Linked DNA regions of Homo sapiens: all the other regions are reported to be linked to region 4. Evidence: microRNA targets listed by miRTarBase, many of them from high-throughput screens and not tested one by one. Region 4 holds a microRNA gene; each other region holds the end of a gene's coding sequence.
The links. The annotated mature microRNA hsa-miR-103a-3p reads AGCAGCAUUGUACAGGGCUAUGA and lies in region 4 at 1,938-1,960, shown strand. An mRNA with a match to its seed (bases 2 to 7 or 8) in the 3' UTR can be bound and repressed. Matches are read on the target gene's strand: a 7mer-m8 pairs with bases 2 to 8, a 7mer-A1 pairs with bases 2 to 7 and ends in A, and an 8mer does both.

Region 1 (4,226 bases), not on the chromosome of region 4:
CAGCTTGCTGAGCATTGAGACCCAGGCTCCAGGCCCCACCTGCACTTAAAGGCTCTGTGATTTCAGGCAAATTCCTTAACTGGGGCAAATGTCTCAATGTCCTCTGCTGCAAAGGGGGACTAATGCTCACCACGATGTATCTGAAGTGCCCGGCACGTAGGAGGGGCTTAATGAAGGGCTATTATTGCTATTGTTGGTATCCTATTTTATATATATATCCTTCTGGAAAAAACCTCTTGAAGAAAGCTAACCCCTGAAAGGACAAACACATTTCAGGCCCTCTCTGAGCTTCAGCAAAGAACACAACACATTCCAGGCTGCCTTCGTTCCAGCTAAATTTTATTTGTCGGATTTTTGACAGACGTCTAAATTATACATTGAGTTTTCCACATGACCAAACACCACATCTCTTCCTTTGATTATCATTTTCAAAAGGGATTATAAAAAAAGAACCTTTTGATGGATCAGACTGAACCCTGAAACCACATGGAGTGCAGAGCTAAAAATAAAAGGAAGTAAGAACTGGTCCCCGAGAAGGAAAGGAAAGGGAAATCAAAGCAAACTCTGACGGGAATGGAGAGACGAGTCCTGGTGAGGGTGACATGGTGTCACCCTCCAGGCCAGGCCGGATAAGGAGCGGCCAACAGTGAGGGTGGGGCGCAGAGTGGCACAAAAATAGCCACTACTTTAGTCCAGAGGGGAATAAAGAAATTTGTCAAAAGCAAGGAGAGAGAAGTGGAGACGGAGGGAGGGAGGAAGGAAGGGGGCAGGACCATGTCCTCCCAGCAGCCGTGGGAGCTGCGGACTCCTTTAACCCTGGCACATTTCTAACCGCCGGCATAATCGCTGACTTTCAGCTGTGCACCGACATGTTCCCCAGCTCAGCCCACATCAATGACACCCTTGTTTCCATAGTAACCAAGGGAGAGTGAAGGGGAAAGGGTGTGTTGCACTGGGTGCAGGGAATCCAGCCAAAAGCAGCCACACGGGGTAGGTCGGGAGGAGGGGAGGACTCGAGTTTTTCCCACAACTGGCTTGAGCACATATCACGAGCACCCCCCAGGCCTTGCCTGCCCTCCGGCCCCCAGCCCTCTCCCCCGCACATTCAGATGCAATTGTGCGCAGGGCAAAAGTCTCGCTAAGACTCACTGGGGACAGGAGGAGGGGAAAAGGGGTCTTCCCTTTCCAGCTTCAAATTCTGTCTTCTGGTCAGGGGGCAGGAGTGGGCAGGGAAGAGGCAAGAGGGCTTTAAAAAGTATTTTGTTTTTAAATGGGAGCTTTCAAACTCTGCCTTTTTCAGGCTTCTCTCATCTACCCCAGAGCCCCAGGAGGGTTCAAAAGGGCTCAAAGGGAAGATGAAAGCGTGTGACATCTGCAGTGTCTCTGTGTCTCTGCAGCTGAGAGCAAATCAGAACATTTACAGAGGCCGTTATCAGAGGAGTGGCTTCTGCCTGCTAGGAGAGGCCTTGGGATGGCTCTTTAAAACAGTCCCCTAAGTTGGTGGTAAAAGAACAAAAATATTTTACAGACCCTCCAATGCCAAAGTTCCATACTGCAGTGTTCCAAAATTGCAGACCTCCAAGCAGGCATTTTGCCCCTCAGATAACTTGTCCCTGCTGAACTATTCGGAAGAAAAAACAATTTGCAAGTGCTAGAGCCACATTTGCAGCCTGGTAGAAGGGGGATTTCTGATTCCTTATAATTCTGTGTTGCCTCTGTAAGGGAGAGCTTGGGTGAGCCAGAGAAGCCAGTGGAGGAGGCTGCAGAGAGCAGCTAGCTCTGAGGTTAAAAAAACCCCTCACTTTCTTTTGTTTTGCAAGTCCTTACAGGTCTGTCCACAGCAACTCTGGGGCACCTTTTCACGGCTGGCTTTGTTAATGACTTTCATGTCAGATCGCTTTTGAAGCTGGCTATGCCTCAGTCTCTGCTGCACTCTTAGCCAGAAGCAGCTGGGTATTGAGGGCCAGGGGCTGCAGCGGCCCCTTCAGTCTGCTCACACGCCCTGATGGGCTTGGGAAGGGCCACCTCCCAGGATGAGAAGGCAGCTGGCCCCCAGGGACCCACCAGTCACTGGACAGTCTCTTATTCATTCTCTGAAAACCCCTGAGCTCAGGCACCAGAACAGAGTTTAATTCAGGAGCCGGGCAATGCTCTGGCCTGTTTCCCCATGTTTGAAGCTGAGGATTTCTGAGGTTCAGGGAAACAAGCTCGTTTTGCAACGAGGGGCAGGAGAAATGTTCTGCTATTCCTCTCCAATCAATCAACAGAGGACGGACATTCTGCTGCAGAGAGGCAGAGGAGCCCAGCAGCTGGGGTGACTCTTGATTCCTTGGACACGACCCCTGCAGTCACACACACACCCATGTCCTCCCCAGCAGCAAACCCTCTCCATCCAGGAGCATCCCACACCACCAAGTTGCCAGCACTGTAAAAATTGATCTAAAAATCGATCTGCCTGGCTTTTCTCAGTGGAGCAGGTTCATGGTAAAGCTGCATTTATTTCTAAAATCTGATAGCAGCGGCCTATTGTGATCGTTTAAACACAGAATTCTTTGAGCTTTAGAAATCCTGTCTATAGGACGGCCGTGGAGAAGCCAGCTAATCTCAGAGTCGGCTGCTCACTGCTCCACTGAGCTGGAGAAAGCCTGTTTACGCTAGCCTGAGCCCTCGATGTGAGAGCTTTTTAAGGACCTTGTAATTTTTCTGGAATTAAACCTCCCACCTCTCCTTACATTCCAGATGTCATTACAGTCAAAAGTCATAAGAATTTGCTTCTCTGTGTGGCTGGCTGGGGCAGAGGCAGGGGTGGGTGGGATGGGGTATGTTTCTGTAGTGACTTGTCTGCAAGAAAGACTTTTTTTTTTTTTTCTGTCCAAAGAGTGAGGATTACATACGTAGTCTCCGACCTGCAAGACGATGAGATGGTTTAATTATCTGCCTTTTCTCCCCCCACCCCCACCCAGCAGCTTCCTGTCGGACAGACTGAAGCCTGGCTGGGCTAGTGACGGTAAAAATCACTGACAGCACCAGCAAACACTGTCTGTGGTTTCAAAACCATGGAGGGAATGCAAGGGACGGGTCAGTAAATAAATGAACTCAGCAAAGCTGCTTCTTCCTCTTTTTCTTTTTCTTTTTTTTTTTTTGAGAGGAAAAAAAAGCCCACTGGAATTGTCTAAACTGCAATGCAATCTCTTGCTCATTTAAAAGATCTCATTTTCTAATCATGTGCTTTGAGACATTTAATACTATTTCAATTATGCAGAGGAAATAATATAATTCCTTTATTTGAAAAATGATACTGAACCTCAGAGATCAGTTAAATCTACTGCTGGAATGGGGATTCTTTCTAAACCGTGTTGTTCCCTCTCTTCAAACAGCTGGAGCTGTACACAGATGGAAAAACATTTGGTCAGAAAGCAGCAAATTAGTGTTTTTCAGGACCGAATTCGGCTCCCGCAGCTCCTGCATCTCCATTCGTCTAGATTTTATTTCTTCTTTGCATTGACATTTTTGCAGACCCAGTTCATGCCATCCTTTGAGGGAAATGGGCAGAGAAAGGCAGTGTTAGTTATAAGAAAAGCACCACACACTCTAGCCTGGAGGGGCGGGCAGTGGGGGTCCCAGGCCCTCCCTCCCAGACCGCCAGCTTTAGGGAGTTTGCTTGGCTCAGGGGCCCACCTGGGTGACCAGGGACAGTGACCTCCCAGGAGGAGGAGGAGGGAGGTCTCTGAGAGCACAAGAGGGCGATGGGAGGGGGATGCCCAGCGCCTGAACTTGAGATGGGTCCTCAGGAACTCCCTCTGAAAAAATAAACACATCTGCCTGCATCCAAAGCCTGACTGAAGAGCTATCAGGAAAGATTCCAGCCATTTTTGGCTTTTTCTAAAAGGTGACCTTTGCCAGGGCATTAAATTCAATAAGCCACCCTTTTGGTGCCCCATGTGTTTACAGTGTGACAGTGTACACTTGGGTTAAATTAAATTTCTTTTTGGAAAAACAAACCTACTGCAGTGAGTGTTGCGAGGCACACACCAGGGCGATGTGCATTTACTTCTCTTCCTGCAGCACTCCAGATAGGTTTAAAAGGGTCTGGCCCGCTTCTTATAGCTTTAAGCACCAGCATCCAGAGGGACTGGGGAGAAGGTTCCCTTAAAGGCACAATGACCTTGAAAGCGCCCTCTCTTAGAAGGCTGAAGAGGGACCAAGGTAAAAATCACACAATGCCT
Region 2 (4,226 bases), not on the chromosome of region 4:
AGGGCCTTTGGTGTTTGACCCTGGAGGGATGGGATGGGAGAAGAGGCCTGGAAATGGGGAGAAGAGGGGAGGGCATCATGGGGCCAGTGCCGTCTGTTCGGCCCTGGGAAGCTGCGCTGGGCTGGCTTGCCTCCTGTGTGGCTGTGCCAGGGCCATCCAGGAGTGTTGCACTTGGGACCTGGAGGATGGGAAGGCCGAGAGGCCTTTGGACTGCTAAACCATCTGGAAGTCAGCCTTTTACAGACTTCGGCAGGTTCCGGCTCTCCAGGTGTGATGGGTTCAGGATGGCTGAACCTGGAGATAGTCTGGAGTCTCTTTGAAGGACCTGCTTGGCTCCTGCTGCAAAGGAACTGCAGGCATTTGTCCTTCCCTTCCCTCCCCCACCCCACTGCTGAAAAAGGTTGGCGGGGGGAAAGCAGCTCTGCTTTTCACAGTGTATACGTGTCAGGAGACAGCAGAGGTGCTGGGTTGAAGATTGCAGGTGGCAGGCCCAGCCCAGGCTGCTGCTCAGTGGGTGCCTGGCCTTCATCATCTCGGCCCACCTGCTTCTTGTGGTGTGGCCAGTCCCAGCTGCCGTCTTAAAGCAGATGTGCGCAACAGTGTACAGGCACACCTGCCATAGCAAATTCCTAGGATACCTCAGTCCTCCATGTTGGTATGCTTTTCTTTTCAACAATGTGGAAAATGCAGTTTACCAAGAAGCTTTTTTGGTTTTCCTTTTAAGGTATTACTTCAAAAAAGCAAGCGATGAGTTTGCCTGTGGAGCGGTGTTTGAGGAGATCTGGGAGGATGAGACGGTGCTCCCGATGTATGAAGGCCGGATTCTGGGCAAAGTGGAGCGGATCGATTGAGCCCTGGGGTCTGGCTTTGGTGAACTGTTGGAGCCCGAAGCTCTTGTGAACTGTCTTGGCTGTGAGCAACTGCGACAAAACATTTTGAAGGAAAATTAAACCAATGAAGAAGACAAAGTCTAAGGAAGAATCGGCCAGTGGGCCTTCGGGAGGGCGGGGGGAGGTTGATTTTCATGATTCATGAGCTGGGTACTGACTGAGATAAGAAAAGCCTGAACTATTTATTAAAAACATGACCACTCTTGGCTATTGAAGATGCTGCCTGTATTTGAGAGACTGCCATACATAATATATGACTTCCTAGGGATCTGAAATCCATAAACTAAGAGAAACTGTGTATAGCTTACCTGAACAGGAATCCTTACTGATATTTATAGAACAGTTGATTTCCCCCATCCCCAGTTTATGGATATGCTGCTTTAAACTTGGAAGGGGGAGACAGGAAGTTTTAATTGTTCTGACTAAACTTAGGAGTTGAGCTAGGAGTGCGTTCATGGTTTCTTCACTAACAGAGGAATTATGCTTTGCACTACGTCCCTCCAAGTGAAGACAGACTGTTTTAGACAGACTTTTTAAAATGGTGCCCTACCATTGACACATGCAGAAATTGGTGCGTTTTGTTTTTTTTTTTCCTATGCTGCTCTGTTTTGTCTTAAAGGTCTTGAGGGTTGACCATGTTGCGTCATCATCAACATTTTGGGGGTTGTGTTGGATGGGATGATCTGTTGCAGAGGGAGAGGCAGGGAACCCTGCTCCTTCGGGCCCCAGGTTGATCCTGTGACTGAGGCTCCCCCTCATGTAGCCTCCCCAGGCCCAGGGCCCTGAGGCCTGCTAGAATCACTGCCGCTGTGCTTTCGTGGAAATGACAGTTCCTTGTTTTTTTTGTTTCTGTTTTTGTTTTACATTAGTCATTGGACCACAGCCATTCAGGAACTACCCCCTGCCCCACAAAGAAATGAACAGTTGTAGGGAGACCCAGCAGCACCTTTCCTCCACACACCTTCATTTTGATGTTCGGGTTTTTGTGTTAAGTTAATCTGTACATTCTGTTTGCCATTGTTACTTGTACTATACATCTGTATATAGTGTACGGCAAAAGAGTATTAATCCACTATCTCTAGTGCTTGACTTTAAATCAGTACAGTACCTGTACCTGCACGGTCACCCGCTCCGTGTGTCGCCCTATATTGAGGGCTCAAGCTTTCCCTTGTTTTTTGAAAGGGGTTTATGTATAAATATATTTTATGCCTTTTTATTACAAGTCTTGTACTCAATGACTTTTGTCATGACATTTTGTTCTACTTATACTGTAAATTATGCATTATAAAGAGTTCATTTAAGGAAAATTACTTGGTACAATAATTATTGTAATTAAGAGATGTAGCCTTTATTAAAATTTTATATTTTTCAAAACACTGGCCTCGTCTTTGAATCCCCAGGGTGGGAACAGGGCCGAGGGGCCCTTTTGTGTGTAGACATCTGTGCTTGATTTCCTACCTTGCCCAAGCCCGTCTCTGACCTTGAGCCCTGACCTGATCTGGACCCACCTGGAGGTTTTGTAAAGCCATTTATTCAAATCACCTGGCTACTGGCTGAGGCTTTTCTTGCCTTGGAGCAGGCTGTAGATGACATCTCCTTTGGGGGTCCTCTTCCCTGTAACACCTCCATTCAGCCTCTTCCTCCTGGGCAGATTGTCTCCAGTCCGGCCAGGTAGGTGCAGGGGACCAGGGGATGAGAGGAGGCCCTCCCAGGAGTTTCAACAGGTGTCTCCGACATGAAAGCCGTTCAGCAGATGGTTTCATAGACCTGGAATGTCCACGTGGGGCCAATGGACTTAGAGATCAAAGCTAGCCAGGCACCCTCCCCATTCTGGGAGCTGATCAACAAGGCTGACTATTAATCCTATCAGTATTTTATCGTGAGCCATCAGGCTCAGGGCCGGTCAGGTGTCGGGAACATAGCAAGGAGGTGGTTCAGGAGGAGGCGACACAGGCAGCTTCTGCACCGCTCGGTGGACAGGTGTGCTTATGTGGCCAAGGACCTCGGCAGGCAGTTGCCCGCTCAACAAACGTGCCCTCCCTGTATCCTGAGCACTTGGCCTGCATGCCAGGCCATACTTTAGATCTGGGAAAGCAGGTCTTTTTAGTGGAGTCCTAGGAAGAACCCTTTTTAAAAACAGAGGATCTGTAACTGCAGTTGGACTTGACTTCTTGTGTGCTGAGTTTTCATGAAATGAACTCGGTGGTCTGCAGTGGATCTGCTTGGCTTGTTCTTCCTGCTGCCAACTGGCGTCAGGCCGGCAGCATAGAGAAAGGCCAGGGTTCTGGCCATGCGGGGTAGGGATGGACTCGAACCCAGTAGCCTCGGAGTGGTGGCAGTAGTAGGAGTTGTCAAGGCTGCTGGGAGAGTCCTGAGTTACCCTCTGAGAAGGCGAGGATGTGAGGGCATCTGGCAAGAGGCTGGAGGAGCTCTGATGCCTTGAACTTGTCCCTAACCATGCAGGTGCTGTGCCCTCCCCTCCTGGCTGGAATGGGGGTTCATACCAGGGTGTCCAACACTTTCCGAATTGTAAACTTCTTTCCAAGACAAAAGGATGAAGAGATGCAACCTATTGTGTGTGGTGAAGATTGGGGTTTGTGGATGGCTTTTCATCTCTATCTTCAGGCCTCTTGATTGAGGAGAGTGATGAGGTTGGGGCTTGGGCCTCAGACAAACTGGACTGAAGGCCCAGCACCACCACCCTCTGGGTGCCATGAGCGGGTTTCTGGCATCTTCTAAGGTGCATTTGTGAGAGAGAACTGGACTAGTTGATCACTCATGTTTCTATCTCCTGTTTTCATTCTTTTTTTTTTTTTTTTTTTTTTTGAGACAAAGTCTCACTCTGTCATCCAGACTGGAGTGCAATGGCGCAATCTCGGCTCACTGCAACCTCCACCTCCTGGATTCAAGCGATTCTCAGGCCTCGGCCTCCTGATTAGCTGGGATTACAGGCGCCCACCACTACGGCTGGCTAATCTTTGTATTTTTTTAGTAGAGATGGGGTTTTGCTATGTTGCCCAGGCTGGTCTCAAACTCCTGAGACCTCCCAAAAGTGCTAGGATTACAGACATGAGCCACTGCACCTGGCCCCTGTTTTCATCTTTAAACTTTTTTTTTTTTTTTTTTTTTGGAGGCAAGAGTCTTGCTCTGTTGCCCAGGCTGGAATGCAGTGGCACAATCTCAGCTCGCTGCAACCTCCGCTTCCTGGGTTCAAGCGATTCCCGTGCCTCAATCTCCCAAGTAGCTGGGATTACAGGCATGTGCCACCACATCGGCTAATTTTTGTATTTTTAGTAAAGACTGGGTTTCGCCATGTTGGCCAGGCTGGTCTTGAAC
Region 3 (4,226 bases), not on the chromosome of region 4:
GCCACTCCTCACAGTGAGGGCAAGTGCTCCCCGAGGCCTCCCAGTTCTCAGGGAACCAGTCCTGATTTTGTGCTGTCCTGTTGGCTCCCTGTCTTAGATGTATTAAGTTATTTCAGCATTTAATGTTTAGCATATTACAGACTCCTTTGGTGGAGCTATAGCTTCTATAATTTTGATGGGTTTTGTTTGTTTGAATGCAGGCAACATATTGCTGAACGTTCTGATTCCACCCAATATGCCATGTACGCGAACAGGGAAGAATAACGTTCTTATCGTCTGTGTTCCAAATCCACCAATTGACGAGAAGAATGCCACCATGCCAGTCACCATGTTGATTCGGGTAAAAACCAGCGAGGATGCAGACGAGTTGCACAAAATTTTACTGGAGAAAAAGGATGCCTGAACACGCAAAGTCGGCTGCAGAATTATTGCCAAGTTGCTGCTGCTTCCACCGCCCCTTAAAGTTAGTCAGTTTTTCTTCTCTTCTTTGACATTCTAAGAACTTATAGATAACTTAAAACTTTTGTGAGGAAGATTAATGTGGCCAATAAAACCTTTAAATGTTAAGTGTCAAGAAACTGCACTCTCCCTTCTTAAGAACTGCCTAAAGTGTAAAATACATTTGAATGCAATTTTTGGAAGATTTTTTAATGTTCGTTTATTAAACTAACCCTAAGTGATTTCTTCAAGGACTGCAATCAGGGTATCAATTTGCTTTCCCAAAGGCTCTTCCAACCCGTGGGTTTTGGGGTCCACCGCCACCACGAGAGAGGCTTTTGAACAGGTGCCTGGCTGTGTTCAGAAGGAAGCTGGCCTGTGTGCTTCTCTCCGGTGGGCTCAGCCGACGTGTGAGACTTGTTCTGTTACCAAATGAACCGGGCTGCCACGCTGTGACAGGCGTTTGTCCTCTGCTTTATTTTTACTTTGAAGCTCAAATGCGAGTACTAAGTGTTCACCTCAGCGTTCGAATCATTGGCCTGTAACCCTGTGGGCTGCTTCACGAGAATTCAGGACCTGCATTTTCATTCTAAAAAGAAATGAACAGCTTGTGAAGGAGTTTTTTGGCTTCATAGTTTCTATTCATGAGGTAGTGTTACTTCTTTATCCCCCTAAAGACAAAATGAAGATAAAGGGGGATTGCCAGGAATGGGTTTAAAAGCACAAATGTGGTAGCTTATCATCTACACCATGGAGAGTGAACCCTTACGAAATGAAAGTCAAATGAGACCATCCGAGAAAAAGATGCGCATAGGCATTTGTACCATGATCAACCCCACGCACATGAAAACTGTGACCAAGTGACGTGCCTGGGAGCTTTGACACACGAGCCGTGTGAATTCACTAGGAAACATGTAATAAAGTCATGGAAGAGAAAATCGTGTGTAAACTTTGCCTTTAACTTTAGACCGCAGTATATTATAATACATTTGATATCTGAAATATCTTTACTTTTTTAAGAGTAAGATTCCATATGTCTGTCTGGAAGGGAGCCATGGTTATTCACACGAATATCCCTGTCACTTCTCCAGAGGTGTCAGGTAACTAACACGAGCATTCTTTGAAGACTCTGGGCACATGAATGATACACAGAATTGAATGTTTAAATTTCCACTGAGTCCTCATGAATCATTTGAGACTAGTACCAGCTGATCTTGTGTACAGGCTCAGGGTCAGTGCCCAAGGGCTCCCGCGTGTGTGTTCTGATCTTCAGTGCGTAGCACATTCTCCATTTAGAAAAGAGTGGTCAGAATAATTGTGGACGGTACAGTGGCTTTTTAAAACTACAGTCTTTAGGTGTAAGGTTTGGCGCCGGGAGCAATTTTATGATCAAATATGATGAACTCCTAAGTCACTGAGGTGTGATTGGGCCAATGTTGGCATGAGGTTCTTGCTCTACTTCCAGTGTTTTGATTCCACTGGGAGAATTTGGCCTAGTGTGTGGCTTTGGATGAATCCGTGTAGAGAGAGGTGAGCTTGTCCTGTTACAGATGCTGTCAGACATAGCGATAGTAGGCACCTAGGGAGGAAGTGGCCGTTAGTTTTACACTGACTTTTTAAGAATGGAGAATGCACGTGGGTTTCTGTTGCGGATGATTCATAGTAAGCAAGCGGTTGATGCTGTTAATACCGGCCCCACCCGATTGACATTAAGTTTATTCAGCTTTTAAAAAGATGAAGAACTAAGGGGAACAAATTTAAGTTTGTTGCAACTTAGCCACACATGCTTCCCTGGTACCAGCTGGAATCAGCAGCTCACAGGCATCTTCAGGACACTTCAGTGTATATGACACAGTACTTTGTTAGCGTCTGCGTGTGTATGGAAAGTTGACAAAAAATGGCATGAAAAGATCATGATTGGATTTTCTTTTAAACCTGCCCTTCTGTAAAAAATAGTTTATATATTTTTAAATTAGTAGGTATGTGTGGCTTCCTTTTTTCCTAACATTCCCAGCAAATTTTTGCTGCTAAGACTATCACTGTTAAAGTGAAAATTACAGGGAAAAATGTGATGAATATACCGTAACTCAAAATGTGATATTTTCTTAAAATCACTCTTTTATGCTTTAGGAACTGGTTGGTCTCCACTTTGATTATTAGTGTAAAGAGCCTGAGTATACGTGGATTTCATTGTAAAATTTAACTCCTTGTCTTTTACTTGGGGCACGGGGCCCCTGGAGGGCTTCCCTACTTTCCCCACTATGTTAACAGGTAATTCTGATTTATGCGTTTAGTTTGACTTATTTTTAACAAAATATTAGAAGTTATGCTTTAAAATGTTTAATGTGGACTGAAATTTTCATCTTTTGTTTGAGAATCTATGAAGTGTATCATATACGTGGCCTAAAGCAAGGTGTGTATTTTGTTATTCTGAAATTGTTTTGCATCTGGACAAATACTAAATATCCCAGTGGCCTTTTTTTTTTTTTTTTTAAAACCTGTGTATCCATCTCATCCTTTTGCGCATTCCTAGTAAGCAAAAAAATTTGTTATGCCATCTTCATTATTCGAATTACAGACTGAAAAAATATGGCCAGTTTTTAAAGAAGTTTAGATTATGTTTTCCATGGAAGGACAAGTCTGACTGTTCATAGGCTGATTTTCTTTAAGAGGATTATTCTGTTTTACAATTTCAATTCTAGATCACATTTTATATATGCTGCATGCCAAAAAAAAAAAAAAGAGAAAACTGCCTTTTCTGGTGTGGAGGGGAAGAAAAACTAATATTCTACCTTACTAGTAGAGTTCAAAACAAGTTTTCACTGAGAGCCTTTTCAGTAAAAGTTAAACAAGTTTGTTTTTTGAGCATTTGTCAGTTATTCTATTTCAGAAGAGTCAAAATTCAAGCACGATACATTTTGAAGGCTTTGCAAACTCCTAAACCCCTGATGAGTCCTCTCATTCTGGAAGTGGGAATTTGAGTAGATACTGATTTGTCCCGTAGTATGGCAGATGACAGGGAGGTCTTTTCCAAGCAGGCACTCAGAACACAGGTCACCGTATGTTCTCAGCCAGTAACAATCATACTGAGGACGAAGGACTCTCCGTTTGATGCAGACACAATTGTAATGGAGATGTAAAACTTCTTAGCAATCAGATGGATAAATTGTTTGCTTTTTACTTTAAATAGGAAATTGTTTTCTAAAACTAAAATACTTGAATTGTCAGACAATATAATCTCAGCTTGTATTAGTTTTTGAATGCTCCCATCGAGGAAGTGTAACAATCCATGAAATGTGAATAAATGAAAAGTAAACAAAATCCCAATGTGTGAGTCTTATGTTCCTCTGTGATGCACTTGGCATTAATACAAGTCAGACAGACCTGAGGAAGAAGAATCAACGCAGAAGCTGCAACCGGAAACTTCCTTGAACAACAGGAAGGTCAGCTTGGAGGTGAGTGAGAGACCAGTTTATTATCAGACTCCTTGTTGGGGGCCGAGACTACTTTTAAACCATTCAGACCAAGGGTTTCTGTTGGATTAAAATCTTAACAGATTGGAATGGGAACAATTGATCCTTAATGGGCTAGTGTGCAAAGCATTGGCTAGGTGCTTTATATGTATTACCTTGGTTAGTCCTCAAAGCAAACCTTTGAGACTTATTTTTTAACCTTTCCTATGTTACTCAGCATTTATTTGGTTTATAAGGGGTATTTTCTGGTTTAAAAAAATAATATTGCAAAGATTTAAGTTATCCATCAAAGTATTTTCCTGAACCGTTAACATC
Region 4 (4,226 bases):
TCTTATATTTAGCTCTTATATTTGATCCATTTTGAGTAAGTTTTTGTGTATGGTGTGAGGTAGAGCTCCAAGTTCATTTCTTTTTGCGTGTGGATATCCAGTTGTCCTAGTACCATTTGTTGAAAAGATGATTCTTTCCCTGTTAAATTCTCTTGGCCCCTTTGTCAAAAATTAGTTGACCATAGATGTTTGGGTTTACTCCTGGACTCTTAAGTTATGTTCCATTGATATATATGTCTGTTTTTATACCAGTACCATACTGCCTTGATACTGTAGCGTTGTATTAAGTTCTGAAGTAAGAAAGTGTGAGTCATCCAACTTGTTCTTTTTTCGAGATTATTTTGGCTATTCTGGGTACCTTGAGAATATGAATTGTAGGGTTAACTTGGCAAGGTCTGTAAATAAGACAACTGGGATTTTAATAGAGATTACATTGAATCTTTTGGCCATCCTAATACAAAGTCTTCTGATCCAAAAAGATGGAATGTCTTCCCATTGATTTAGATCTTTGCTTTCTTTCAGCAGTGTTTTGTAGATTTTATTGTACAGGTGTTAATACTTTTGTTAGATATATCCGTAAGTGTTTTATTCTCTAATGCTATTATAAATGAAATCATTGTCTCCATTTTGAGATCGTTTAGAAGTACAATTGTTTTTCGTATATTGGGGCACATGGCTTTTACTAATAGAAAAATCATATGTATACATGCTTGTTTACTAAGTTTTAGGCACTTGGTCAATGCTGTTGATTTTCTGTTTGTAACATTTGCTCGTTGGTCATCACTTCCTTTTCTGATTGGAAAATTATTGTAGCAGTTCTGCTGAGCATGTACTTTGAAGTACTTTATCTTCTAGGGAAACCTGAAATTCTTAAGCAGCTCACTCTGGGACTCAGCTGTCTGTGCTTTACTCTGCTCTGATAGAGCAGTTTACCAGATGTGCATGTGGCCATCTGAGTGGAACAGCTGTGCAGTTGAGATGAATTGCTGTTAGAGGTGTTGTCCTGGAACTGTCTGGTTGCAGGAGCAATGGTGCCTTCCAGTGCATCTGATGAGATTCTAACTGAATATGTGAATATCTGGTATCCAAGCTAGATTTCAGTAGAAACCGCAGGGAAAGCTGTCTGCTCATTTAGAATGTTGGAGGGCTCTGTTTGAAGTTTGCATTTCTCTTTGAACAGATGCTCCATTGCAAAATAAAAGGTTTGAAGATTTCAACAATGTTGCCCTAAAAGCTAATTTTATTTCAATAAAGTAACATTCAAGTTCTGTTGGGCTTTGTTGCTGTTGGTTTAGCAATGGGATTTTTTTTCCCCCATCACAGCTTTGGAAACATGATGAGCAAGGAGAAGCGAGAGGCTGTCAGTAAAGAGGACCTGGCCAGAGCGACTTTGATCACCATCACCAACAACATTGGCTCAATAGCAAGAATGTGTGCCCTTAATGAAGTAAGGGGACATGGATTTCTTTAATTGCTCTAAGGAAAATACTGAACTTAAGTGGGCCCCATCACGTCTGTTTTCTCAGAACAGTGCCTAAATGTAGTCATTTGGGGTGGGGTTTGTTTTAGCACGAAGTTAAAACTCTTCAAATACAGATTAATCTTCTTTTTTTTTTTTTTAAACTGAAGATAAACATTGCTACTTGTCTAGAGGTAAAATGACATCTTTTGAGGAGAAAGTAGAGGAAGAGTGGAAGGTAGCCAGTGTTCCAGATATTGGGGACTGTTGGGGGTGATGATGGATAACGATGCTGAATGTAGACTCCACACTCACTGCTGAGCTCTAGAGGCCCTAGGGAGGAATCCAGAGGAAGTCACGGAAGCTGGGAGAAGACTGAGCAGGCCGAGGGGTGCCCTCCTTGGCTCCCCCACCTCAGCAGAGCTGCGTCTTTGTGCTTTCAGCTTCTTTACAGTGCTGCCTTGTAGCATTCAGGTCAAGCAGCATTGTACAGGGCTATGAAAGAACCAAGAATGGGCTGCCCTTGGGAAAAGAGGATCTAGGATCCAGTTGGTGCAGCTTATGGCTTGTCCCTGTGTGTATAGTTGTTAAATTATTCTTTTATTTTTATTTTTAAGAAGTTATTCTTTAGATAATAATAGGCATGTAGCTTAAAAGGAAACCTCAAAAGACACAAAGGATTTGTCTCATTTTAAATTAAAAAAATACTGTATCAGCATCAAGTAATTAAACATTTGTTGGAATATCATAACTTCTTTTTTCTTTATTGTATGTTCCCTTTCCTGTGCTTACGTATTTTCAGAAATTTTAGTTGGTGTGCATACCACAATTTGTATTTTATACTTAAATATACATTTCATGGTTGTATATTTATTTGATCAAGTTCTTTTATATCAAATAACAGAGCTTGGCATTTGGTTGCTTGCTCATAACTCGGCAGTAAGCATTTTTAAGCATGAAGTTATTCTTTGGTTGAATTTTATTCTTGATATGGGGCTTAGGAGTGAGATTTCTGGTCTACAGAAATGATCATGCTCATGAATTTTGACATTTATCGTCATGATGCTTTGCACAAGGGCTGCACCAATTTAGATCATCTTTAGCGGTGAATGAGTGGATTAATTTTACTACAACTACTGATGGTGGTGGTGGAATTTCAGTTGCTTTTTTTTGCGAGGTTAATAGGTCTAAAATTTTACTTTTGTTTGATGACTAGTGGTTTGAATTTTTCGCTGCCTGTTATATTGCTTGTATACTTTGCCTGTTTGTGTCACTGTCCTTTTGGATTGGAGTCATACTGTTTTTTTTTGTTTATTTTAACTTATCTGTATAAAACATTGTATTCAAAACTAGTTATTGTTGGTCAGATTTAATACAAATGTTTTTCCTAATCTGTTTTCTTCTCCTGTGACATTATCTAGCATGCTTTGCAGTGGGTCCAGAGTTGTCTGGGGATCAAGTTTAAGTAGCCCTGGACCAACTGGACTAAATTTGATCAGCAGTCAAATTGTTGCTAAGAGCTATGCACATGGTGCTGTATTTGGGGTAGCTTTTATGAGAAAATAGAAATTAAGATGAAAACTAATTGCCTTTTTTTGGTGTGCTCAGAACATTAACCAGGTGGTATTTGTTGGAAATTTCTTGAGAATTAATACGATCGCCATGCGGCTTTTGGCATATGCTTTGGATTATTGGTCCAAGGGGCAGTTGAAAGCACTTTTTTCGGAACACGAGGTAAGCTGACTTGTTCGTTGTGGTATATTATGTACACAGAGGGCTTGTGGGTCACACTGTCATGGAACTTGAGGTAGAGGGTGGAGGTGAAATGGGCTGCAGTGTTTCTTTTGTTTTTTGTTTTTTTGAGACGGAGTCTCGCTCTGTCACCTAGGTTGGAGTGCGTGGCACAGTCTTGGGGCTCACTGCAGCCTCCGCCTCCTGGGTTCAAGCAGTCCTCCCACCTCAGTCTCTTAAGTAGCTGGGATTACAAGTGTGCGCCCCCACACCCTGCTAATTTTTGTACTTTCAGTAGAAATGGGGTTTCACCATGTTGGCCAAGCTGGTCTGGTCTCAAACTCCTGACCTTAAGTGATCTGCCAGCCTCAGCCTCCCAAAGTTCCAGGATTACAGGTGTGAACCACTGTGCCTGAACTTTTTTGGTAGTTTAATTTCGTAACATTTGAAAGCTGTTTCTTCCCTGATACTAATGCAAGGTAAATTTTGGGTTAATTTAATTGTAAGCTTAAGGAATTTTAGAGAAAAACCCTTGAACATTCCCCTATATTTCTGATGCCATATTTTTGTCTGAACTATCCTCTATATTTTTTCTATTGCACTGACTGTGTCATTACTCTGGGTTCTGGTTTTTTCATTTTTTTCAGTGCCAGTTTTTATATATTGTTGTAATTCTTGTGCCAGTTATTTAAGATGCATGTTGTAAAAATGAATAGATGAGTAAACCTCTCAGACTAGAACCATACTATCATAAGAACTTAAGTACAATTGTAGACAGGCTGGAAATGATGAAATGGAAAAGAATCAAATTGCTCAACCTCATAGCCTGTCTTGGAAAGCACTCTTATTTTTCCTATTTGGGGAAAAAGAAGCAGAGGTATGGAAAGGCGTGTAGGGGTTCTTTCTTCCCTTCTTGGTTGTGGGGCAGTTGAACTATTCTTTCAACTGTTCTTGGATTTTAGATACTGTTATTATGAACATTTTTCAGAATTGTATTGCATATTTAGTTTAACAGTCTATATGAATTAAAGGAAAT
Region 5 (4,226 bases), not on the chromosome of region 4:
AGAGCAGGCATCTGCCTGTCACCCACAGGTGTGTTTTGTGAAAAAGCTGTGACTGATGTCCTCCAAGTTTTCAGGTTGAAGGATTTCTCAGGATGGCCAACCACGGTCTTTCCTTGGGTGTTCCTGCTCTTCAGGCAAGCCTCTGCCTTATCTAGTTTTTGTTTGTTTGTTTTTTTTTTTTTTTGAGATGAGTCTCGCCTCTATGGCCAGGGTGGAGTGCAGTGGTGCGATCTTGGCTCACTGCAACCTCTGCCTCCCAGGTTCAAGCGATTCTCCTGCCTCAGCCTCCCGAGTAGCTGGGACTACAGGCACGCGCCAACACGCCTGGCTAATTTTTGTATTTTTAGTAGAGACGGGGTTTCACCATGTTGGCCAGGATGGTCTCAATCTCTTGATCTTGTGATCTGCCCACCTCAGCCTCCCAAAGTGCTGGGATTACAGGCATGAGCCACTGTGCCGGGCATGCCTCATCTAGTTTTATCTTCTCCACCTATCCAAACCCTTCCTCTCCTTTGAAGCCCAATTCAAGTTCTAGGTCTCTGTGCACCTCCCTGGATTCTCAACAATTTTCCCTATTGTCTGACGCACTTAGGAGCTGACACAAACCAGCCCCTCAATCCCAGAGGGTAGACAACACAATGTGGTTATTCCTTCTCTTTTAGAGGCATAGTACCTCTCTTACCAAAAATGTCTCCCCCTCTGTTAGGCCAATCAGTGCCTTTTTGGGGGCTGGGAGGGGTTCTGCCTTTTGGATCAGAGAGTGGAGCAGTGAGTCCTGCTCCAGTGAGGAAGCCATACATTCAGGCACTTCAGGAGCCAGAATTCCTACTAGGGGAGCTGCTCTGTGCTGAGATCAAATGAAGCCCCAGAGAGAGGCAGAAATGGGTCAGATGGACCCTAGCTCCACAGGTCCCGAGGCCCAGCCACATCAGCTCCAGCCCAGTGTGGTTGTCTAGCTCTGCTTTAGTGTCCACAAGCCAGTCATTCATACCTATTTTGCCCAAGCTGGTTAACTGGCTTTCTGTCACTCGCAATTCAAAGTACCTGGTATGGCCGAGCGTGGTGGCTCACGCCTGTAATCCCAGCACTTTGGGAGGTCGAGGAGGGCAGATCACGAGGTCAGGAGTTCAAGACCAGCCTGGCCAACATAGTGAAACCCCGTCTCTACTAAAAATACAAAAAAAAAATAAAAAAAATTAGCTGGGAATAGTGGCGGGTGCCTGTAGTCTCAGCTACTTGGGAGGCTGAGGCAGGAGAATCGCTTGAACCCAGGAGGCGGAGGTTGCAGTGAGCCGAGATCACGCCACTACACTCCAGCCTGGCGACACAGTGAGACTCCATCTCAAAAAACAAACAAAAACAAAGAAAGTACCTGGCACATAGTAGGCATGCAAGAAATGTTCATTCCCTTCTTTCCTCCTTAAAGATAGGCTTATACTTCTGGGTCTTTCAGTATCTCTATTCTGTGATCATTCAATCAGAAACAGCAATTGAATTTTACTAACTGAGAATATATAGAGATACAAGTATGAAGTGAACAAGCTATTACAGGCATTAGTTTTAAACAGCAATATTCCCTTGATACCTGTGAGAGGTGACAGCGTGCTGGCAGTCCTCAGAGCCCTCGCTTGCTCTCGGCACCTCCCCTGCCTGGGCTCCCACTTTGGTGGCATTTGAGGAGCCCTTCAGCCCCCCACTGCACTGTGGGAGCCCCTTTCTGGGCTGGCCAAGGCTGGGAGGTGTGGAGGGAGAGGCACGAGCGGGAACCTGGGCTGTGTGCGGCGCTTGCGGGCCAGCTGGAGTTCCCGGTGGGCGGGGACTTGGTGGGCCCCGCACTCGGAGCAGCCAGCCAGCCCTGCTGGCCCCGGGCAATGGGGCACTTAGCACCTGGGTCAGTGGCTGCGGAGGGTGTACTGGGTCCCCCAGCAGTGCTGGCCCACCAGCGCTGCGCTCGATTTTTCGCCGGGCCTTAGCTGCCTTCCTGCGGGGCAGGGCTTAGGACCTGCGGCCCGCCATGCCTGAGCCTTCCACCCACTCCATGGGCTCCTGTGCGGCCCGAGCCTCCCTGACGAGCACCACCCCCTGCTCCACAGTGCCCAGTCCCATCGACCACCCAAGGGCTGAGGAATGTGAGCGCATGGCGCAGGACTGGCAGGCAGCTCCACCTGCAGCCCCAGTGTGGGATCCACTGGGTGAAGCCAGCTGGGCTCCTGAGTCTGGGGGGGAATGTGGAGTCTTTATATCTAGCTCAGGGATTGTAAATACACCAATCAGCACCCTGTGTTTAGCTCAAGGTTTGTGAGTGCACCAGTCGACACTCTGTATCTAGCTGCTCTGGTGGGGACGTGGAGAGTCTTTATATCTAGCTCAGGGATTGTAACTACACCAATCAGCACCCTGTGTTTAGCTCAAGGTTTGTGAGTGCACCAATCAACACTCCGTATCTAGCTGCTCTGGTGAGGATGTGGAGAACCTTTATGTCTAGCTCAAGGATTGTAAATACACCAGTCGGCACTCTGTATCTAGCTCAAGGTTTGTAAACACACCAATCAGCACCCTGTGTTTAGCTCAAGGTTTGTGAGTGCACCAATCGACACTCTGTATCTAGCTGCTATGGTGGGGCCTTGGAGAACCTGTGTGTGGAAACTCTGTATCTAACTAATCTGATGGGGACGTGGAGAACCTTTGTATCTAGCTCAAGGATTGTAAACGCACCAATCAGCACCCTGACAAAACAGGCCACTCGGCTCTACCAATCAGCAGGATGTGGGTGGGGCCAGATAAGAGCATAAAAGCAGGCTGCCAGAGCCAGCATTGACAACCCGCTCGGGTCCCCTTCCACACTGTGGAAGCTTTGTTCTTTCGCTCTTTGCAATAAATCTTGCTACTGCTCTCACTCTTTGGGTCCATGCTGCTTTTATGAGCTGTAACACTCACCGCGAAGATCTGCAGCTTCACTCCTTAGCCCAGCGAGACCACGAGCCCACCGGGAGGAATGAACAACTCCAGACGCGCTGCCTTAAGAGCTGTAACACTCACCGCGAAGGTCTGCAGCTTCACTCCTGAGCCAGCAAGACCACGAACCCACCAGAAGGAAGAAACTCCGAACGCATCTGAACATCAGAAGGGGCAGACACCAGACGCGCCACCTTAACAGCTGTAACACTCACCGCGAGGGTCCGCGGCTTCATTCTTGAAGTCAGTGAGACCAAGAACCCACCAATTCCGGACACACCTGGATCTCTTTTTCCAGTATCACTATCAGTTAAATCCCGCCTCCCCCCCCCGAAATTTATAATTTTATAAACAGGCAACCATGAGATATAATTAGGAAAAACTAGTGACACTGCTTTATTTGAGAACAGAATAAAGAGCGTGGCTGGAACTCTGCCAAGATGGTCTTTAACATTCTGCCCTAACCAGGGTGTTAACTTTCCAACACTGTTGGTGTATGGCTGAGTGCTGCAGATTTCTCAGAGAATTAGCAAAAGGTTGAAATAAACGCTAAAGATGAGTCCGTAAGAAGGAAAATAAGCTGGTTTTCTTTCTGTTCCTTTTAAAACTCTAGCCAGAAATACTGCCCAATGCATAATGAAGACTGTACACAGCAGCATCAAAAAGGCTATTTACAAGAGATTTTCTTCAACAGAATCCACTTGAAAGCACTGAGAATTTGCATCTTAGCTAAGAGCAGTTTACCAAGGAACAGGGCCATCTAAGTGCCTAACTAGCATTTAAAGTTGTCAAGGGGTGGGGATGTGCAAATTAAGCAGCAAAAGATTATTATCTTGTTTTGCTTTAAGGGAAAGTAATAGTGGTCAGAGGGGCCAGTTCCAAGGGCTGGTCCAAGGGGGGCCGCTGGTCTTGGTACTCCGCCACATGCCCATTCCGGTGGTGGCCATACTCAAACTTGATCCGCAGCTCGCCAATCTTAGATTGGGGAAGGATATCTGGGATCCACTCGATGATGAAAGGTGTTGGCTCCTTTTGATCTGGGGAAGTGTTGCCTAAAGAGAAGAAAGGAGTATTAGTACAATTCCACCTAACTCTAATGGGTGTTCCTAATTGCAAAAAAAGTGTCCGGAATTGGAGCAGCCTGTTCAGCTTTGATAATCAGAAGGCCGAATGAGGTTTATAAATTCAGTGGTGATTGGGATATCAGATTTATTGATCATCATGAAGTTTTTGGGTTATTTTGTTTTTTTTGAGACGGAGTCTCGCTTTGG
Region 6 (4,000 bases), not on the chromosome of region 4:
TTTTTGAGACGGAGTCTCCAGTCTGTCACCCAGGCTGGAGTGCAGTGGCACAATCTTGGCTCACTGCAACTTCCGCCTCCTGGGTTCAAGCAATTCTCTGTCTCAGCCTCCCGAATAGTTGGGATTACAGGCACACGCCACCACACCCGGCTAATTTTTGTATTTTTAGTAGAGACGGCGTTTCCCCATGTTGGCCAGGCTGGTTTCAAACTCCTGACTTCAGGTGATCTGCCTGCCTCGGCCTCCCAAAGTGCTGGGATTACAGGTGTGAGCCACCATGCACGGCCGAGTTATTGGTCTTTTCTTAATGAACTGGAGGATACTTTACATAAAGGAAATTAGCTCTTTGTGATGAACTGCAACTATTTCTTCCCAAGTTTGCCACAGCTTCCAATTTCCCTTGATGGTAGTTTTTGTTATGCAGAACTTTTAATTTTCATGTAGCTGATTTTTACATATTTTTAAGTTGTGGTAAAATACACATAATAATCCATTTTTATTTTTAGTATTTTATTTTTCAGATTCTCAGCCTCTGCACAGCCTTAGTACTCCCTGAGAAATTCAGTGTTTGCATATCCTTTCCACAAAAATGAGAGGAAAAAGGACCAGTACCTGCTAGTGACTGATACATTTATTAGTTTCTAACAAAAAGGCATACATGGTAGGCAGAGTAGAAATACTAACAGAAATTAGTTTATCTTGAAACCAATTTTAGTCAGGAAGACTTCTTCACAGAGAATGAGCTGAATATATAAATCCCAAATATATCACACCATATATGTGATATATTTACACCTAAATATATCACACCCTCCTTTTTGGTCACAGACTATTCCAGGAAGATTAAATAGATAACGTTTAATTTGAGGCATTCAAGAATGTCCACCCTAAAACTGAAAGTGAAATTGCTCTTAGAGAAAAATTGGTTTGATGAGAAGATTGATCTTAGCCTGTCTCAGACAAATTTGGTTTATTTATTTTTACTTAACGACCCATGTGATAGTATAGTTGCAAGCTATACTTCATTTAACTACAATCATTACTCAGAGGACAATCACCTTAAGAGGCAAATTAAGTTTTAAATTAGCACAGAATTTATAATTACCCAATCAGCATTGACATAGATGCCATCAGGTATGCAAAGATTAACAAAATTCTATTACCAACCTTAGAGGAAAAAAACTTAATGACATACAGAAATACTGGCAAATTTAAGCTAGAATTAGCTCCAGGACATTTTATCTTATTTTCACATTAAAAGAATAGATTACTAGATATCAGCAGAAATGCTGTTAAAGCTATTTTTTACTAATAGTTGTTCATATTAATGAAACAAAAGATCAATAGTCTCTGAGCTAAATTTCACAAAATGAAATCAGTGTCTTCTGATTTAACTTTCAGGAGTAAGAAAGGGCAAAACCCAAGCACCATACTTTCTATTTCTGTTCATAAACTCAAATAAAAGCAGTATCAACACAAATGATCATATAAGAAAACACGTGGTTATGTTTCAGGTTCCACAACATAAGACACTGTGAGGTAACTCTCCTGTAATACATTCCCATTTTTTTCTGGAATAGCAGATGCATAGAAATGCAGGTTTCCAAAAATTCACCCAATTTAGTAACTAATTTTGATTCTGATGCCTGATAGTAGGGTGTGAAAAGCTGTAAAACCCAAATGTTTCCTGTGTTCTTTCACAAGGACAAGGGAAGAGGATGCTCTGCCAAACTGCCCCTGCTGCGTCATAGTGGACCAGTTTCAATGATCCAGACTGTCAGTCACCCCATCCAGCCTCATCCTCATCTGGACCCATTTCTCACCACCCAATCAGTTTCAATGATCCAGACTGTCAGTCACCCCATCCAGCCTCATCCTCATCTGGACCCATTTCTCACCACCCAATCAGTTTCAATGATCCAGACTGTCAGTCACCCCATCCAGCCACATCCTCATCTGGACCAGTTTCTGACCACCCAATCAGTTTCAATGATCCAGACTGTCAGTCACCCCATCCAGCCACATCCTCATCTGGACCAGTTTCTGACCACCCAATCAGTTTCAATGATCCAAACTGTCAGTCACCCCACCCAGCCTCATCTGGACCAGTTTCTGACGACCCAATCAGTTTCAATGATCCAGACTGTCAGTCACCCCATCCAGCCTCATCCTCATCTGGACCCGTTTCTGACCAACCACCCAATCAGTTTCAATGATCCAGACTGTCAGTCACCCCATCCAGCCTCAGCCTCATCCTCATCTGGACCCGTTTCTGACCAACCACCCAATCAGTTTCAATGATCCAGACTGTCAGTCACCCCATCCAGCCTCAGCCTCATCCTCGTCTGGACCCGTTTCTGACGACCTAATCAGTTTCAATGATCCAGACTGTCAGTCACCCCATCCAGCCTCATCTGGACCAGTTTCCGACGACCCAATCTGTTTCAATGATCTGGACTGTCAGTCACCCCATCCAGCCTCATCCCAGCTCTTAACTCCTTCTGCATAGTTCAGTTTCCTTTCTGGCAACTAATTCCCAATTTCCTAGAAAACCCTGATTTTCTGATTTAACACTGATTCGAATCCACTTTAAACCAAAGGAAACAGGCCGGGCGTGGTGGCTCACGCCTATAATCCCAGCACTCTGGGAGGCCGAAGCAGGTGGATCACCTGAGGACAGGAGTTCAAGACCAGCCTGGCCAACATGGTGAAATCCCATCTCTACTAAAAGTACAAAAAAAAAAAAAAATTAGCTGGGTAGCTGGGTGTAGTGGCACATGCCTATGATCCCAGCTACTCGGGAGGCTGAGGCAGAAGAATCGCTTGAACTCGGGAGGCGGAGGTTGCAGTGAGCTGAGATCGCGCCATTGCACACCAGCCTGCGTGACAGAGCAAGACTCTGTCTCCAAAAAAAAAAAAAAAAAAAAAAAAAAAAAAAAATCTGGGATTTCCCACATATGAATATGAATCCAAATTTTGAAACTCCGTCTAAAAAAAAAAAACAAACACCAAAGGAAATGCTACAATGCTGAAAATTGAATTAAATTGGAGATGGAAATTAGATTACTTTAGGAAAACCTTTTGAGTACTCTGTAAACATTGGACAATAGCAAGAAAATGGATTTTAAACCCTGCATGGGTTCCTTAATCACTCAGAATAGTATAATCTTGCTTTGATTACCAGTCACGACAAAAAGGTGAGCAAAGGCCATAAAACATGCAGTTTTTGGAAAGACAATGGCACTTGAAGATTTCCTGGAGTTGGCCAAAGCTTAAGATATCTCTAAGAATTGTAAAGCTTAATACACATCTGTTATTAAGAAGGGAAACGACAGGGGACCCCTGCTTACCGCTGAGCTGTGCAGAAGCTCATGTGTCTATGCAGTCCTTACAATCACACAGACCTTCATTAAGGACAATGAGTGTGCCTAGAGAGCAGCATGAATGACACATGGATGAAGATTCCATGATAGGAAAGAGCTTCACATTCCAGCTTTACTAGATCACAAAGCACTCCCTTTACCAGGCCTTACTTTGTGCATCTCTGAAACATCTGAAAAACACTTTTCTGTGAAATGCTAGGCTGTAGGGAGTGAGCACTTTTGGATACCTTACAGTGATCTCTAGTAGAATTTGGCATCTTTCTTCTATTAACTGACTGCTTCAACTGCATCTTTAAAGACACTTGCCTATTTTTGTCCCTTGAGCCTCTCTCTGGTGTTGGATGCTTTGTGTGAGTTTGCCTTTTGAAGTTCCCATCTTTGGGATTCTTCCTCTGTCCATTTAGCACTTTGTCTGGAGGGGAGGATGTAGCGCGTAAGTGATACTCATCTGGGGATCCTTTTTGCCGGTTTGGCACCATTTGCTCTTTATCCACCTCCTTCTGAAGTTGTAATGCCAATAACCTGTCCTGTTCTTCTTGTTTATGTCTCTCAAACAGTAGATGCTCCAAATCTATCAGTTTTTGGGTAAAGTTTATTTCTGTTTCCTCTTGATCTGG
Region 7 (4,000 bases), not on the chromosome of region 4:
TGGCTAGTGGCCACCCTATTGGATGGTGCAGTTCCAGATGTCCCAAGCATGTAGGTGTGATGACAATCACTCAAGGTCAGATTTTGGGGGGCACCCGCAAACTGCTTTAACTACTTCCTAATCATTTCTATAGTTAAAAGTTGGGGCTAGCTCCAGAAAGGAACCCTTCTTCCTTTTCCCTCCCCGATGTGATGGTGACAGGATTTCCTCTATCTCTCTAGGTCTTCTATGGCAACTCGGACCGCACCTCCACGGTTCAGAACCTGCTGCGGCCCCCCATCATCTCCCGCTTCATCCGCCTCATCCCGCTGGGCTGGCACGTCCGCATTGCCATCCGGATGGAGCTGCTGGAGTGCGTCAGCAAGTGTGCCTGATGCCTGCCTCAGCTCGGCGCCTGCCAGGGGGTGACTGGCACAGAGCGGGCCGTAGGGGACCCCCTCACACACCACCGAGATGGACAGGGCTATATTTCGCAAAGCAATTGTAACTGCAGTGCTGGGTAGATAATTTTTTTTTTTTTAAGATATAGCTTTCTGATTTCAATGAAATAAAAATGAACTTATTCCCCACTCAGGGCCAGAGAAAGTCAGAACAAAGAAAATGTCCCCGAAACGAATTTTCTTACAAAAGCCTAAGTAGCAGGGGTAATTTTCTGCTCATTTTTTGTCTCAGTGATACTGTGAAAGGTGCAGTCTCAGGGGAACACAAAGCAGCCCTGATAATTTGAAAATTCATTTGCTTTACCACATTCAAGACAGAAACATACAGTTTCCTAAAGCCTGGCTTTGAATGCAGAAGGGAGCAGCTCCTCCTAGTTAAGTTTCCACTAAATCATCGCCAAAGAGGACTTCAGAGCCCTGGGGAGGCAGCTGAGGGTCTCAAGGGTGACTGGGTGGCAGGGATGAGTGCGGTGGGTGAGAATCCCGGTGCCCTGAGAGGCTATACGTGACAAATGACCAAAAGCCCAAGGTAGGGGAGTTTCCTCTGCTCACAGTTCTTACCTTCAAGGCGGATCTGGGCTTCCACCCTCATGAACACAGGGATTGGGGAGGGACCAGAGCGCCCAATACACACAGCTCCATTATGCAATCCATTCCAGCAAATTCCCCGTGTCTGTGGTCACCATTTAGGTGATCATACAGGACAGGCTGCACATCTCAGTATATGTAGGGACCCCAAATGACCACAACACAGTACAATTGCCCTTTACCTAGGGCTACCATTTCCTAGCAAACCAAACATAGTTCGAGAACAGCTGGCCCAGGAGCTACCACTGGCTACTCAGAGGAGGCTCATTAGCTGGCTACATGCTTCGCAGGAAGTGGGAAGGACTCACATCATAAAAAGGACCATGTAGCTTTTTCCCTGAAAGCTTCTCACCCTCCACCCTCTGCCTTGCAATACGCAAACTGCGCCTGCTCCTGAAAAGCTCTCTGGGAAGGAATGGGCCTGGCTTTCCGTTCCTGGAGGCGGCGCCTTAGATTGGGAGGCCTCATTGGCCACTTAGAGCGCAGCCTGAGTTTCCAGGCCCCTTCCTGGGAGAGGCTGTTAACACGGGGGAGGGGCAGGAGAGGGATATGGAGAGCAGGTGGTGGAATCAGAGGACGAGGCTGCTCTAAAGACTGTTCTGGCCCCAGACACAGGGTAGTCTTTGCTAGCAGCTCATTTCCGAGTTACTTTTCATTTTCAAATGCCAAGGCAAGTGACTAGACTCGCGCTAATACAGTGCTGGACAACACATTCACCTTTTCTGTGAACAGGCAGCCTTCTAAAAGCCCCAAACATCCTTCTTGATGCTTTGGGGGCTCAATTATTTTATATCCAACCCAGCATCTTTCTAGTCCCTATGCTGTATGCTTGAACTTCGGAAAATGCTTTTCCCCGCCCAATCTTCTCTCAAATATAAACACATCACACAGGGTGTTGGGGGTGGGGGGGGGGGGTGGGGGGACTTATCCCTGGCCTTAGGACACAGGACAAATCTATTTTGGATAGAAATGCCTGAACAGAGACCCTTATTTGGAAAGGTGAATTAACTTTGGTCACGACATGGACTGTCAGACAAAATGGCAGTATCCTAAGAGTTAAGGCACATCAAACACAGGAGTCGAGAGAGTGCAGTTCAGGGAAAAAGGAGAGGAGGAAACAGTGAGGCAGGGAGAAAGGCTTTCCAAATAAGAGTTCATGTTGGAAACTTTTGTCACGGCTTTATTGAGATTAAGTTCACATACAATTTGTATCCATTTAAAGTGTACAATTTGATGACTTTTGGTATATTCAGAGTTGTGCAACCATTATCACTAGATCAATTTTAGAAAGTTTATCACCCCAAAGAGAAATCCTGCACCCATCAGCCAACACTCCCCAACCCATCGGCCACCCCAAGCCCTCTGCAACCACGAATCGACTGTCTCTGTAGATTGGCCTTCTGGACGTTCTACATAAATGAAATCATATAGTATGTGGTATTTCGTGACTGGCTTCTTTCACTTAGCATAGTGTTTTAAAGTTCATCCACGTTATAACATGTGTATCACTATGTCACTTGTCACTCCTTTTTATTGCTGAACATCATTGTTCAGTATCATGTCAAGAGCACATTGTTATTTATCCATTCATCCATTGATGGATATTTGGGTTTCCACTCTTTAGCTATTATGAATAATGCTGCTATGAACATTTGTGTATAAGTTTTTGTGCGGATGTGTGTTTTCATTTATCTTGGGTATATACTTAGGAGTAAAACTGCTGGGACACACAGTCACTCTTGTTTAATCTTTGGAGGAACTATTATCCCAAGTGGCTGCATCATTTTACATTTCCACCAGCAATGTAGGAGGCTTCCACTTTCTCCACATCCTCAGCAACACTTGTTACTGTCCATCTTTGACTATACCCATAATGTGTGAAGTTGCATCTCAACTGTGGTTTTGATTTGCATTTCCCTAGTGACTAATGATGTTGAGCATCTTTTCATGTGTTTACTGGCCATTTGTACATCTTTGGATAAAGGTTTTTCAGATCCTCTGCCCATTTTAAATCGGCTTACAACTTACTGAGTTTAAGAATTCTTTGTATATTCTAATTCCCTTATTGGATATGATTTGCAAATATTTTCTCCCATTCTGTGGATCTTTTTAACCCTCTCGATAGAGTCCTCTTAAGCACAAAATTTTAAATATTTGATGAAGTCCAATTTATTTTTCTCTTTGCTTGTGCCTTTGGTGTCATATCTGAGAAACCACTGCCAAATCCAAGGTCATGAAGATTTACCCCTATGTTTTCTTCTATGAGTTTTATAGTTCTACCTCTTACAGTTAGATCTTTGTTCCATTTTGAGTTAATTTTTGTATATGGTGTGAAATAGGAGTCCAACGTCATTCTTTTGCATGTGGATATCCAGTTGTCCCACCACTATTTGCTGAAAAGACTATTCTTTCCCCCATTGAATGATCTTGGCACCCTTGTCAAAAAACAATTGACCATAAATGTGAGAGGGTTTATTTCTGGACTCCAAATTCTATTACCTCACTTTCTTCATTATTGTAGCTTTGTAGTAAGTTTTGAAATTGGGGCATGTGAGTCCTCCAACTTTGCTCTTCGGGATTGTTTTGGCTATTCTGGGTTCCTTGAATTTCCATATGAATTATAACTAACTTGTCCATCATTGCAAAGAAGCCAGCTGGGATTTCACATTGGAAACTGCTCAATACTTCAGAATTTAATAAACAGTAAGATATACGATTCATAAGACATTTATCTGCAGATAATTTGCTTACAACAGCATATTATTTACTTCATTCAATTCATGACAGAATGTATAAAAACTAAAACTTTTATTGAGGGAAATCTGAAGCCTAATAGAATCTTGCTGTCAAACACACAAACTATGCTTCCAAGTATCATTTCTTTTGTGGGGGAAACTTTCAATTAAAAATTATACATAGTGTAGGAAAAACTCACTCTTACCTTATTTTAACATATTTACTTTTATTTTTAG

Region 1: miRTarBase lists ARL3 as a target of hsa-miR-103a-3p. The part of its 3' UTR that is shown has no 7-base or 8-base seed match.
Region 2: the mRNA of AXIN2 is a reported target of hsa-miR-103a-3p. Seed matches in the 3' UTR shown: 7mer-m8 at 1,107-1,113, 7mer-m8 at 1,263-1,269 and 7mer-m8 at 1,486-1,492.
Region 3: miRTarBase lists NUP50 as a target of hsa-miR-103a-3p. Seed matches in the 3' UTR shown: 8mer at 3,155-3,162.
Region 5: the mRNA of C2orf42 is a reported target of hsa-miR-103a-3p. Seed matches in the 3' UTR shown: 7mer-m8 at 3,608-3,614.
Region 6: miRTarBase lists RNF168 as a target of hsa-miR-103a-3p. Seed matches in the 3' UTR shown: 7mer-m8 at 3,436-3,442.
Region 7: miRTarBase lists RS1 as a target of hsa-miR-103a-3p. Seed matches in the 3' UTR shown: 7mer-m8 at 2,665-2,671.

Annotation. Positions count from the first base shown.
Region 1 is chr10:102,673,409-102,677,634 of GRCh38, forward strand. ARL3 (ARF like GTPase 3) reads right to left here. Exons shown (of 6, transcript NM_004311.4): 6 at 323-3,533. The coding sequence ends at 3,486. Among named protein-coding and RNA genes, the nearest start is that of TRIM8, 31 kb to the left of the region's middle. RefSeq lists an enhancer at 397-946.
Region 2 is chr17:65,526,601-65,530,826 of GRCh38, reverse strand. It overlaps AXIN2 (axin 2), which reads left to right. Exons shown (of 11, transcript NM_004655.4): 11 at 725-2,264. The coding sequence ends at 851. Among named protein-coding and RNA genes, the nearest start is that of AXIN2, 33 kb to the left of the region's middle. RefSeq lists enhancers at 1-284, 285-799, 2,622-2,916.
Region 3 is chr22:45,184,253-45,188,478 of GRCh38, forward strand. It overlaps NUP50 (nucleoporin 50), which reads left to right. Exons shown (of 8, transcript NM_007172.4): 8 at 201-3,765. The coding sequence ends at 403. All of the region lies in intron 3 of LOC105373064 (a long non-coding RNA gene), which reads right to left. Among named protein-coding and RNA genes, the nearest start is that of MIR1249, 15 kb to the right of the region's middle.
Region 4 is chr20:3,915,604-3,919,829 of GRCh38, forward strand. It overlaps MIR103A2 (microRNA 103a-2), which reads left to right and starts at 1,891; the gene lies at 1,891-1,968. PANK2 (pantothenate kinase 2) reads left to right here. Exons shown (of 7, transcript NM_001386393.1): 5 at 1,324-1,447; 6 at 3,068-3,193. It overlaps MIR103B2 (microRNA 103b-2), which reads right to left and starts at 1,960; the gene lies at 1,899-1,960.
Region 5 is chr2:70,146,558-70,150,783 of GRCh38, forward strand. It overlaps C2orf42 (chromosome 2 open reading frame 42), which reads right to left. Exons shown (of 10, transcript NM_017880.3): 10 at 3,328-4,007. The coding sequence ends at 3,799. Among named protein-coding and RNA genes, the nearest start is that of LINC01816, 23 kb to the left of the region's middle. RefSeq lists an enhancer at 2,376-2,905.
Region 6 is chr3:196,468,290-196,472,289 of GRCh38, forward strand. It overlaps RNF168 (ring finger protein 168), which reads right to left. Exons shown (of 6, transcript NM_152617.4): 6 at 494-4,000. The coding sequence ends at 3,530. Among named protein-coding and RNA genes, the nearest start is that of RNF168, 33 kb to the right of the region's middle. RefSeq lists a silencer at 1,918-2,094.
Region 7 is chrX:18,638,378-18,642,377 of GRCh38, reverse strand. It overlaps RS1 (retinoschisin 1), which reads left to right. Exons shown (of 6, transcript NM_000330.4): 6 at 222-2,690. The coding sequence ends at 374. It overlaps CDKL5 (cyclin dependent kinase like 5), which reads right to left. Exons shown (of 18, transcript NM_001323289.2): 18 at 2,182-4,000. Among named protein-coding and RNA genes, the nearest start is that of RS1, 32 kb to the left of the region's middle. RefSeq lists a silencer at 1,545-1,714.